Homo sapiens: one gene and its partner. The protein of the gene in region 1 purifies or fractionates together with the protein of each later gene. This does not show direct contact. Each region holds a gene or a part of one and is shown in the gene's direction. Other genes may lie near its edges.

Region 1 (7,292 bases):
CAGCACTCGAGTAGAGATGGCAAAAGCTAGGATTAGGGTGACGGAAGCCCAGAGGTCTGTGTGAACCTGCTTGGTGGGCTCCTGGCATCGATCTGTCCCAGTCCTTGTTCTCGGGTGTCTGATGGGTCAAGAGGGGACCTCAGTATCAGAGCAGACGTTTTGGGGGAGAGGCTCAAGGATCTCTCCCCATGATCCCCTGAGGTCTCAGGGATACTCATGCAGGTCATCATTTTGTCTTGTTCCCTCTCTCTTCTTTGGCAGTTTCTGAACTTCTGGAACAAACAGGACACATTGGAGCTGGAGAGCCCCTCGCTGACATCCACCCCAGTGTGCAGCCAGAAGGTGGTGGTCACCACACCACTGCACCGGGACAAGACACCCCTGCACCAGAAACATGCTGCGTGAGTGCTGCAGTGCCCCCAACCTTCGCCGTCCTCTCCCTCAGCAACACCAGACCATGGGCCTTGGGACCACTGGTGGAACAGTGGGGAGGGGGCACCCTTGGAATAACACTGAAGACTGTTTTAAGAAAGCCCTCTCCTTTCTGGCCACCACGATTTATCATTTTTATCGATATAGTTTTGGGCTCCACCTTTGCTTTTCCTCATTTGTATTTTTTAATTTGATAGTTTCCTTTTTTGTGATCCTCCTGCCTCAGCCTCCTGAGTAGCTGGGACTCCAGGTGCATGCCACCATGCTCAGCTAATTAAAAAAATATTTATTTATTTATTTATTTATTTATTTATTTATTTATTTATTTTGAGATGGAGTCTTGCTCTGTTGCCCAGGCTGGAGTGCAATGGCGCGATCTTGGCTCACTGCAAGCTCCGCCTCCCAGGTTCATGCCATTCTCCTGCCTCAGCCTCCCGAGTAGCTAGGACTACAGGCATCCGCCACCGCGCTCAGCTAATTTTTTGTATTTTTAGTAGAGACAGGATTTCACCGTATTAGCCAGGATGGTGTCGATCTCCTGACCTCGTGATCCTCCTGCCTCAGCCTCCCAAAATGCTGGGATTACAGGCGTGAGCCACCACACCCGGCTAAAATTTTTTTAAGAGGTGAGGTCTTGCTACTTTATCTGGGCTGGTCTTGAACTGGCCTTAAAGTGATCTTCCTGCCACAGCCTCCCAAAACGCTGGGATTACAGGCGTGAGCTACTGCACCTGGCCCTCATTTGATAATTTTCTGTCTCAGGAATGGAGAGTCCAAATTAGCCTGAAAAACATAATCTCTTCCGCTTCCTAAGGTTTCAGGTGCAAATTCGTTGTGTTTGAGCAGCCTTATGTGCAGGGCGAAAGTGCCCATCCCTCTATCAAGAGTGGAGACTGCATTCCTGTCCTCTGAGCTTACGGAGCATGACATTTTCTGTCTGGAAGCCTGTACAGGTTGCTCGCCAGCCTGCTTTTACAATGGAAGTGCTTTTACAATAAGTTTACTTCCTTGGGTCATCATGATTCTAAATTCCAGGTAGAGAGAGTTGCTTAACTATTCCTCTGCTTGATACATTTGCTGGAGGAGGAAATCGCTATTTTGTGATTCAGAAATCAGCTCAGGAATTTTAGCCCTGATAGTGATACATAATTTCGGGAAAAGATTTGTGAATCCCTTAGTCAGAAATCAGTCTCCAAAGTCCGGCTCAGTGGCTCACACTTGTAATCCCAGCGCTTGGGAGGCCAAGGTGGGAGGATCACTTGAGACTAGGGGTTTAAGACCAGTCTGGGCAATATAGGGAGACCCTGTCTGTACACAAAAAAAAAAAAAGTTTTTTTTTTTTTTGAGATGGAGTCTTGCTTTATCACCCAGGCTGGAGTGCAGTGGTGCAATCTCGGCTCACTGCAACCTCCGCCTCCCGGGTTCAAGCAGTTCTCCTGCCTCAGCCTCCTGAGTAGCTGGGATTACAGGCACGCGCCACCACACCCAGCTAATTTTTGTATTTTTAGTAGAAACGAGGTTTCACCGTGTTGGTCAGGCTGGTCTCAAACTCCTGACCTTGTGATCCACTCGCCTCGGCTTCCCAAAGTGCTGGGATTATATGTGTGAGCCACTGCTCCCAGCCAAAAAAAATTTTTTTAATTAGCTGGGCGTGGCCGTGTGTGCCTGTAGTCCCAGCTACTCGGGAGGCTGAAGTGGGAGGATTGCTTGAGCCCAGGAGTTTGAAGCTGCAGTGAGCTATGATTGGCTACTGCACTCCAGCCTAGGTGACAAAGCGTGACTCTCTTTCTAGTTTTTTTTTTTTTTAAAAAAAAAAGAGAAAAAAGAAATCAGTCTCTAAAGAGTTGATCTAAAGCATAACTTAGATAGGTTTCGTGAGAAATGATTGTCCGTTCAAACCAGAATCTTGGACTTCGCATCTAAGCCCTTAAACAGAGATGCTGTCACTACAAAAGGCATTGATACTTCTCTCTCTCCCTTTCTTTCTTATCCATGTGGCCTCATTTGCTGCCTCCTTCCAATTCCTTTTTTCCATAGGAAGAAGCATCTCCAGTGCTCTTCATTCCTCTTTAGATCCATATTTCCATCTGGTTCCTTCTGAAGGCCATCCTTTAACCATGTAGTGTGGGCTTGCTGGTGATGAGTTCTAATTTTTATATTTTTTTGCTAATTTTTCTATTTTTTTGTAGAGATGGGGTTTCGCCATATTGGCCAGGCTGGTCTCGAACTCCTGACTCAAATGGCCTGCCTCGGCCTCCCAAAGTGCTGGGATTACAGGCGTGAGCTGTAATCCAGCTGTTATTCCTTTGTAGAGAGTCTCTTTAGTTATCCCTCAAATTTGACAGGCTGTATGGTGGTGTGGTATTTCTCTATTTTTTTCCCCCCCGGCTTTCATATCAGACTAAAGATTCAAACCTTGAGCTGAGGAAGTGTTTATTTCTTTAGTTTTTCTTTCCCTGTCTGCCCCTTCTCCTACCTTAGGAATTCCTTCATATATAGGCTGGATTGGTCTCTGTGTCTTTTTCGTCTTCATACGCCTCTTCACCATCTTAAGCCATTTCCTTAATCTTCGGAGAACATGATGGGATTGTTTTCTGATTCACCAGTTTGGTTGTCTGTGGTTTCCAACTTGCTGAATTCTCTGATTTACAGAGCTGCATTTTTTATCTCCAAGCAATCTTTTGAATTCCCTTTTCAAGTCAGCCTCCCTGCCTCCCTGAGTTTTCTTTTTGAGACAGTCTTGCTCTGTCCCCAAGGTTGAATACAGTGGTGTGATCATGGCCCACTGCAACTTCTACCTCCCAGGATCAAGTGATCCTCCCACCTCAGCCTTCTAACTAGCTGAGAACACAGGTGTGCACCACCATGCTTGGCTAATTTTTTTGTTTTTTTGAGAGACAGGGTCTCACTGTGTTGCCCAGGCTAGTCTTGAACTCTGGGACTCAAGCAATCCTTCCGCCTCAGCCTCCTAAAGTGCTGGCATTACAGGGGTGAGCCACAAGGCCCGGCCTCTCCCTGAGTTTTCTAATGTGTGTATATACACTCTTTTTTTTCTTTTTTCCGAGACAAGGTCTCTCTTAGTCACCCGGGTTGGAGTGCAGTGGTGCAATCATGGCTCACTGCAGCCTTGAATTCTGGGCTCAAGTGGTCCTCCTACCATAGCCTCTGGAGTAGTTGGGACTACAAGCACCACCATGGCTGGCTGATTTTTTTATTTTTAGTAGTGATGGAGTCTGTGTTACCCAGACTGTTCTTTAACTCCTGGCCTCAAGTGATCCTCTCCTGTCAGCCTAACACTAATCCCAGAGTGTTAGGATTACAGGCGTGAACCACTGCCTTTGGCCATGTGTGTGCTCTTAGTCCTTGTTGATGCCACGAATTAGAGAGGTTCTGGAATTTTCTCATGTTCCTCAGAAACTCCATGTCCCATGGAGATGCTTGAGTGGCTCAGATTCACCTCTGTGAATTGTGGTTTGAACTGTAAGATGTGTACATTTGACTTGTGCTTATCTGTCTTCACTCTTCCTTACAGAGGGGGATCTCTGTGTGTCCCAGATGGGGGATAACAAGGGTTTGGGAAGAGACTGTGGATCCCTGCCTAATCTCTAGGTCCTGAGGAAGGAAGAAAAGAATGGTCTGCATTTGTTCTAGTTTTTTATCTCCCCATGGAGTGGCTGGCCAGCTGCGGGAAGTGGAGGCGGCGAGGCCCCAGGCTGCTGTTTCTAGGAGTTGGCCTCATCACCCAGGTCCCTGGCTACCTGGGGTGTTTCTCTCATCCTCTGAGTGCCCTGGTTATGCCATGAGAGTCAGCCATGGTGGTATCTCCAGGTGACTAAGGTCACATACCAGCACACAAGGGTTCGTGTTTGTGGAACCTGGTAGCTTCCTTCAGAGCTGACATTTGCCCACAGCCAGCCTGGCCCAGCCCCATACCACCAGCCCTGGCGCTCTGGGGCGTGAGGTGCCTTTTCTGCCCCCCTGCTCTAGGGCAGGTGGAAATCACCCATGGTGGGTCTACATCTGATAGAAGCATCTTATAGTTCTGCTTCTGGACCAGACCATCCTGGGTTTTTCTCTGTTCTGCTGAAGGGTTCCCTCCACGTGTCCATCACCTCGGTGAACTCTTGGGAGACCTGGGAAGATGCTGGCCTCACCTCTCGCCCCTCCTTTCCCTCATTGTGCTGCCACCATCCTTCTCACACAGGCTCTCCAGGGAGAGCTGGGCAGGATGGGATCTTCCTGGGTTCCCACCTTGCTCCGTGCCCCCTCTCACTGTTCCTGAAGTGTGGCCACGGACTGCCTTGTTTTCTGGAAAGTCCCAAGTCTGGACCATGACTGAGCAGCATTCTCGGCTATCTGCCACCTGTCTGGGGCTCCTGGCCCCTCTTAGACTCCCCTCTCCCTTCTGTTTCCCCCGAGCCCCTGACTTGGACCTGCAGGGTGGGGAGAGGGATGGGACGAGAACCTGTGCTGGGGCCAAAGGTCGCACTGGGGGAAGGTGGAGCCAGGGCAGCAGAGTGCCTGGCGTCGGCCCCTATCCTGTCACTAGTTCCCCCGTTCTGGCCCCTGGCAGGTTTGTAACCCCAGATCAGAAGTACTCCATGGACAACACTCCCCACACGCCAACCCCGTTCAAGAACGCCCTGGAGAAGTACGGACCCCTGAAGCCCCTGGTACGTGGTGTGGTCGCTGCCGTGGATCTCTGCACAGTGGGATCCCTTCGGTTCATCCAACCATGTTCAGTCCACAGGACCCTTCCCTCTGAGGTCTCATTTGATTCTTTCTCCTGAGAAGATGCAGAGATCCTGATAATATAAATGGGGAAGCTGAGGCTGCTCTTTGTCACTTCCTCCGACTGCTCCTGAGCACCTGAGTTTGCAAGCACGCGCCGGCTGGTGCTAGAGACATGGTGGTATCCCGTGACACTCAGCCTCAGGATGGGGGAGACTGATGTGAAATACAAATAACTTAAACACTTTCAGGCAAAGATAAGCACTGGGCCTAGTTCAGAGAAGTGGCAAATTGCTACTCTGGCCTGTCTCTGACCAACTCCCAGTTCTCTACAGAGCACGGGAAAGCCCCTCGGGGACGTCTTTCCTGCAGTGTGCAGGCTGCCCTTCTCCCCTGCTCTTCCCAGTTGATGGGATGGTTGTGTTTTCTCTATGAAAAAAGGAGTTGGCACCTTGGGCTTTCTGAAACACACAGGTGTTTTAGAAATCAGTGGAGGGTGAGAGAAAGGCATGGTTGTGGAGGCACTGGACTGTGAACAAGGTCTGCAGCGGGTCCCCCTGCTGTCTCTCTCCACTGCATGGAGCCTCCTATGAAGCCCAAGGTGGCTGGGGGCTGAGGCTCCCTTGGGCCTGCCATGGAACTGATTCTGAGTCAAGCAGACTTTCCACGGACCATGCTACATGAGCCGAGGTGAGGCACTAGTTAGTGCTCCTTTCCTGTTGCAGTGGAGATTTGGCTCCTCTGTACTAAAATATCTGCATGCTCTCCAAACAGGTGTGAGGGCAAATCACATGACCTTGGCAGCTGTAATTAAAGTTTGTGGGGGCTTTTCGGATGACTTATGAGGAGTGGCTGTGATTCGCACCTTTCACTCTTAGTAGCACTCGCCCTCCCCTGTTCTCTGTTGCCTGAAGCTGGAGAGGTCCTTGGAACCCCGAGGCCTGAGAAAGGGAAATGGGTTTGAGAGCCCCCATTAGTGTGGAACAAAGGGTTGAGTGAGCCTGGGCTTTGAGCTGTCGGGGTCCTAATTCAGCAGCTGTGTGACTGTGTGCCAGGCTGTTGATCTCTGAGCTTCTGTTTCTACCTGCTTAAAATGACGGTTACTGCACAGGGCTGTGTGAGGGTTACAGTGCGTCTCTGGGCTGCTCCCAGCCATGGCAGGCCCCTGGGAATCAAGGTCATCAGCTGCTTGTCCAAGGCAGCAGTTAGTGGTTGTGAATGGTGCGTGTGAGATCTGCATCCTGGCGTCAGGCCTCCTTCCTGCCTTACCCAGGACAGCCCAGTTGCAGCTGGGTTGGTCCCACAGTCCCACACACACACAGCCCGAGTGTGGTGCCTCACGTGGGCTGCCCCGTGCCTACCCACAGCCACAGACCCCGCACCTGGAGGAGGACTTGAAGGAGGTGCTGCGTTCTGAGGCTGGCATCGAACTCATCATCGAGGACGACATCAGGCCCGAGAAGCAGAAGAGGAAGCCTGGGGTGAGTAGGGTAGGGGTGGGAGAGCCTGGGCAGGGGGAATTGGAGCCGTGGCATGGGGGAGGCGTCTGGGGACAGGTTGTAGAAAGTGAGGCGCTGGGGAGAATGGGGGCGTAGCATATCCCCTTTGCCCCCTTTCGCACGGTGGTTGTTGAGGAAACTGACAAGATAAGGACAGTGTCTCTGGGACCCTCCTCTGCTCTGCTTTGAAGGATTCACTTACTTATCCAGCATTGTGTTCGGACCCTGCTCAAGTTGGGCTGGGCTGGATGTGGTGGATGGAGCAGCAATTACGACCCAGACTGGATCTCCCCTTAGTGTTCAGGGGGCAGAGACAGATGCTAGACAGACACACCATGACTGAATTCACAGGGTACCAAGGGCCGCAGAAAGGGAGGTTCCAAAGGAATCTTTTGGGTGGAGGCGAGGCGGTCGGGATGAGCCAGCCAGGCCAGGCAGTGCCTGGCTGAGTGTCAAGCTGCATGAGCTGGGGGTGGGGGAGTGGGTTCAGGTGAGGTGGAGTCTGCAGGGGCTCCTGGGCAGGGGGGCAGGGAAGGGACTGTCCCAAGCCTCCGTTCTATGCCAGCCTCCCTCCCACTGCGTCGTTAGCTTTCATGACAGTGCGCGATCCCTTCGAGTCTCCTAGTGCTC
Region 2 (3,287 bases), on another chromosome or scaffold:
TAGTCTGGAGTGCAGTGGTGTAATGAAGGCTCACTACATCCTTGACCTCCCAGGCTCAAGTGATCTTCCCACCTCAGCCTCCCACCTGTAGCTGGAACTACAGGTGCATGCCACCACATCCAGCTAATTAAAAAAAATTTTTTTGTAGAGATGGGATCTCACTATGTTGCTCAGGCTGGTCTCAAACTGGCCTCAGTGTCTTGCAGTGCTGGGATTACAGGCATTGTTTGTTGTTTCTTAACTTTGTTTATGGTATCTCTTGCCACAGTAAAATTTTAAAGTTTTATGTAGTCAAATGTCTCTCTTCTCTTTTACAGTTTCTGGGTTTCCAGTCTTGGTTAAGAAGGTCACCCGCACCCTCAGATTGTATATGTAGTCTCCTAGATTCTCTTTCAGGATTTGTATGATTTTAAGGTTTTCATTTTTTTTTTAAAGCCAGTCAAATTTAGCAGTTGGGGGTTGTGTACCAACTTTAGTGACAATAATGTCACTACCCGCTACCATCAGAGCAGCCTAAGGTTCTTATTTTCATGCATTAAATCTTTGTATACAGTGTAAGACAAGCATGCAATTTTATTTCCTCTCGGATGAATGCTATTATAATTATGCCACTACATACTACATACCCGCATCTTTTACCCCCAGAATTGAACTACCAACTTCAACATACATCGTATTCTCATATTTAATAGATTTTAAGACTTCAAAACGACACAAAGAGGATCAGAACCCGTATGTGATATTTTTGTGCGTCCTGTCTGGTGACCGTTGGTTCACCTTATCTCTGTTTCCCTTTCAGGTGCTGCTAGCTGAGGAGGGGATAGCTCCTCTTTCTTCTGCAGGACCAGGGAAAGAGGAGAAACTCCTGTTTGGAGAAGGGTTTTCTCCTTTGCTTCCAGTTCAGACTATCAAGGAGGAAGAAATCCAGCCTGGGGAGGAAATGCCACACTTAGCGAGACCCATCAAAGTGGAGAGCCCTCCCTTGGAAGAGTGGCCCTCCCCGGCCCCATCTTTCAAAGAGGAATCATCTCACTCCTGGGAGGATTCGTCCCAATCTCCCACCCCAAGACCCAAGAAGTCCTACAGTGGGCTTAGGTCCCCAACCCGGTGTGTCTCGGAAATGCTTGTGATTCAACACAGGGAGAGGAGGGAGAGGAGCCGGTCTCGGAGAAAACAGCATCTACTGCCTCCCTGTGTGGATGAGCCGGAGCTGCTCTTCTCAGAGGGGCCCAGTACTTCCCGCTGGGCCGCAGAGCTCCCGTTCCCAGCAGACTCCTCTGACCCTGCCTCCCAGCTCAGCTACTCCCAGGAAGTGGGAGGACCTTTTAAGACACCCATTAAGGAAACGCTGCCCATCTCCTCCACCCCGAGCAAATCTGTCCTCCCCAGAACCCCTGAATCCTGGAGGCTCACGCCCCCAGCCAAAGTAGGGGGACTGGATTTCAGCCCAGTACAAACCTCCCAGGGTGCCTCTGACCCCTTGCCTGACCCCCTGGGGCTGATGGATCTCAGCACCACTCCCTTGCAAAGTGCTCCCCCCCTTGAATCACCGCAAAGGCTCCTCAGTTCAGAACCCTTAGACCTCATCTCCGTCCCCTTTGGCAACTCTTCTCCCTCAGATATAGACGTCCCCAAGCCAGGCTCCCCGGAGCCACAGGTTTCTGGCCTTGCAGCCAATCGTTCTCTGACAGAAGGCCTGGTCCTGGACACAATGAATGACAGCCTCAGCAAGATCCTGCTGGACATCAGCTTTCCTGGCCTGGACGAGGACCCACTGGGCCCTGACAACATCAACTGGTCCCAGTTTATTCCTGAGCTACAGTAGAGCCCTGCCCTTGCCCCTGTGCTCAAGCTGTCCACCATCCCGGGCACTCCAAGGCTCAGTGCACCCCAAGCCTCTGAGTGAGGACAGCAGGCAGGGACTGTTCTGCTCCTCATAGCTCCCTGCTGCCTGATTATGCAAAAGTAGCAGTCACACCCTAGCCACTGCTGGGACCTTGTGTTCCCCAAGAGTATCTGATTCCTCTGCTGTCCCTGCCAGGAGCTGAAGGGTGGGAACAACAAAGGCAATGGTGAAAAGAGATTAGGAACCCCCCAGCCTGTTTCCATTCTCTGCCCAGCAGTCTCTTACCTTCCCTGATCTTTGCAGGGTGGTCCGTGTAAATAGTATAAATTCTCCAAATTATCCTCTAATTATAAATGTAAGCTTATTTCCTTAGATCATTATCCAGAGACTGCCAGAAGGTGGGTAGGATGACCTGGGGTTTCAATTGACTTCTGTTCCTTGCTTTTAGTTTTGATAGAAGGGAAGACCTGCAGTGCACGGTTTCTTCCAGGCTGAGGTACCTGGATCTTGGGTTCTTCACTGCAGGGACCCAGACAAGTGGATCTGCTTGCCAGAGTCCTTTTTGCCCCTCCCTGCCACCTCCCCGTGTTTCCAAGTCAGCTTTCCTGCAAGAAGAAATCCTGGTTAAAAAAGTCTTTTGTATTGGGTCAGGAGTTGAATTTGGGGTGGGAGGATGGATGCAACTGAAGCAGAGTGTGGGTGCCCAGATGTGCGCTATTAGATGTTTCTCTGATAATGTCCCCAATCATACCAGGGAGACTGGCATTGACGAGAACTCAGGTGGAGGCTTGAGAAGGCCGAAAGGGCCCCTGACCTGCCTGGCTTCCTTAGCTTGCCCCTCAGCTTTGCAAAGAGCCACCCTAGGCCCCAGCTGACCGCATGGGTGTGAGCCAGCTTGAGAACACTAACTACTCAATAAAAGCGAAGGTGGACATGCTGGGCTCTGTGGTTTATTGGCGTCTGATTCCTAAGGCACCAGGAGAGGCTGGAAAAGAAAGAGGGTGTTGATGGAGACGATGGTGATAGGGAAGAGGCAAGGCCTGAAGTTCACCCAAAGCAGCAGTTGGAGCACTTGCACAGGCACACACTTGACAACACAAATTGCCAGTTTTCCCAGTGCTAGTCCTGCACAGCTCACCTCTTTTCCCTGGCGTCTCTGACCTTGTTCCTTGGGACCTTTGGACCTGCTGGTTAACTTAGGCCTTTTGAGGGTTCTTAATAAGACAAGCTCACGAGGGGTAGGGCCCCCTGAACATTAGGGCAGGAAGGGCCCAGTTACAGGTGCTTCATTCCCACTGCCATCCCCACCCTGAGGCCTGGGAGCCAGCCTGCCCTGCTTTTCTTCTGCCCGGCAGCAGCTCCTGTTACAGTTTTTTGCAGTCAGAACTTGAAGAAAGTGCTATCCCCTGCCTGTCTAACCTGAAAAGTAGCCAGGGGCCCA

The links.
Region 2: the proteins of MYBL2 (region 1) and FOXM1 purify together in Homo sapiens (affinity purification with western blotting; 3 studies listed by BioGRID and IntAct, with this or other methods). This does not show direct contact.

The regions. Positions count from the first base shown.
Region 1 is NC_000020.11:43,704,958-43,712,249, forward strand, and holds part of MYBL2 (myb-related protein B), read left to right. Parts: intron 1-261; coding exon 262-401; intron 402-5,005; coding exon 5,006-5,105; intron 5,106-6,530; coding exon 6,531-6,644; intron 6,645-7,292. UniProt on the Homo sapiens protein: Transcription factor involved in the regulation of cell survival, proliferation, and differentiation. Transactivates the expression of the CLU gene.
Region 2 is NC_000012.12:2,857,176-2,860,462, reverse strand, and holds the end of FOXM1 (forkhead box protein M1), read left to right. Parts: intron 1-671; exon of another isoform or gene 672-799; coding exon 800-1,825; 3' UTR 1,826-2,783; downstream 2,784-3,287. UniProt on the Homo sapiens protein: Transcription factor regulating the expression of cell cycle genes essential for DNA replication and mitosis. Plays a role in the control of cell proliferation. Also plays a role in DNA break repair, participating in the DNA damage checkpoint response.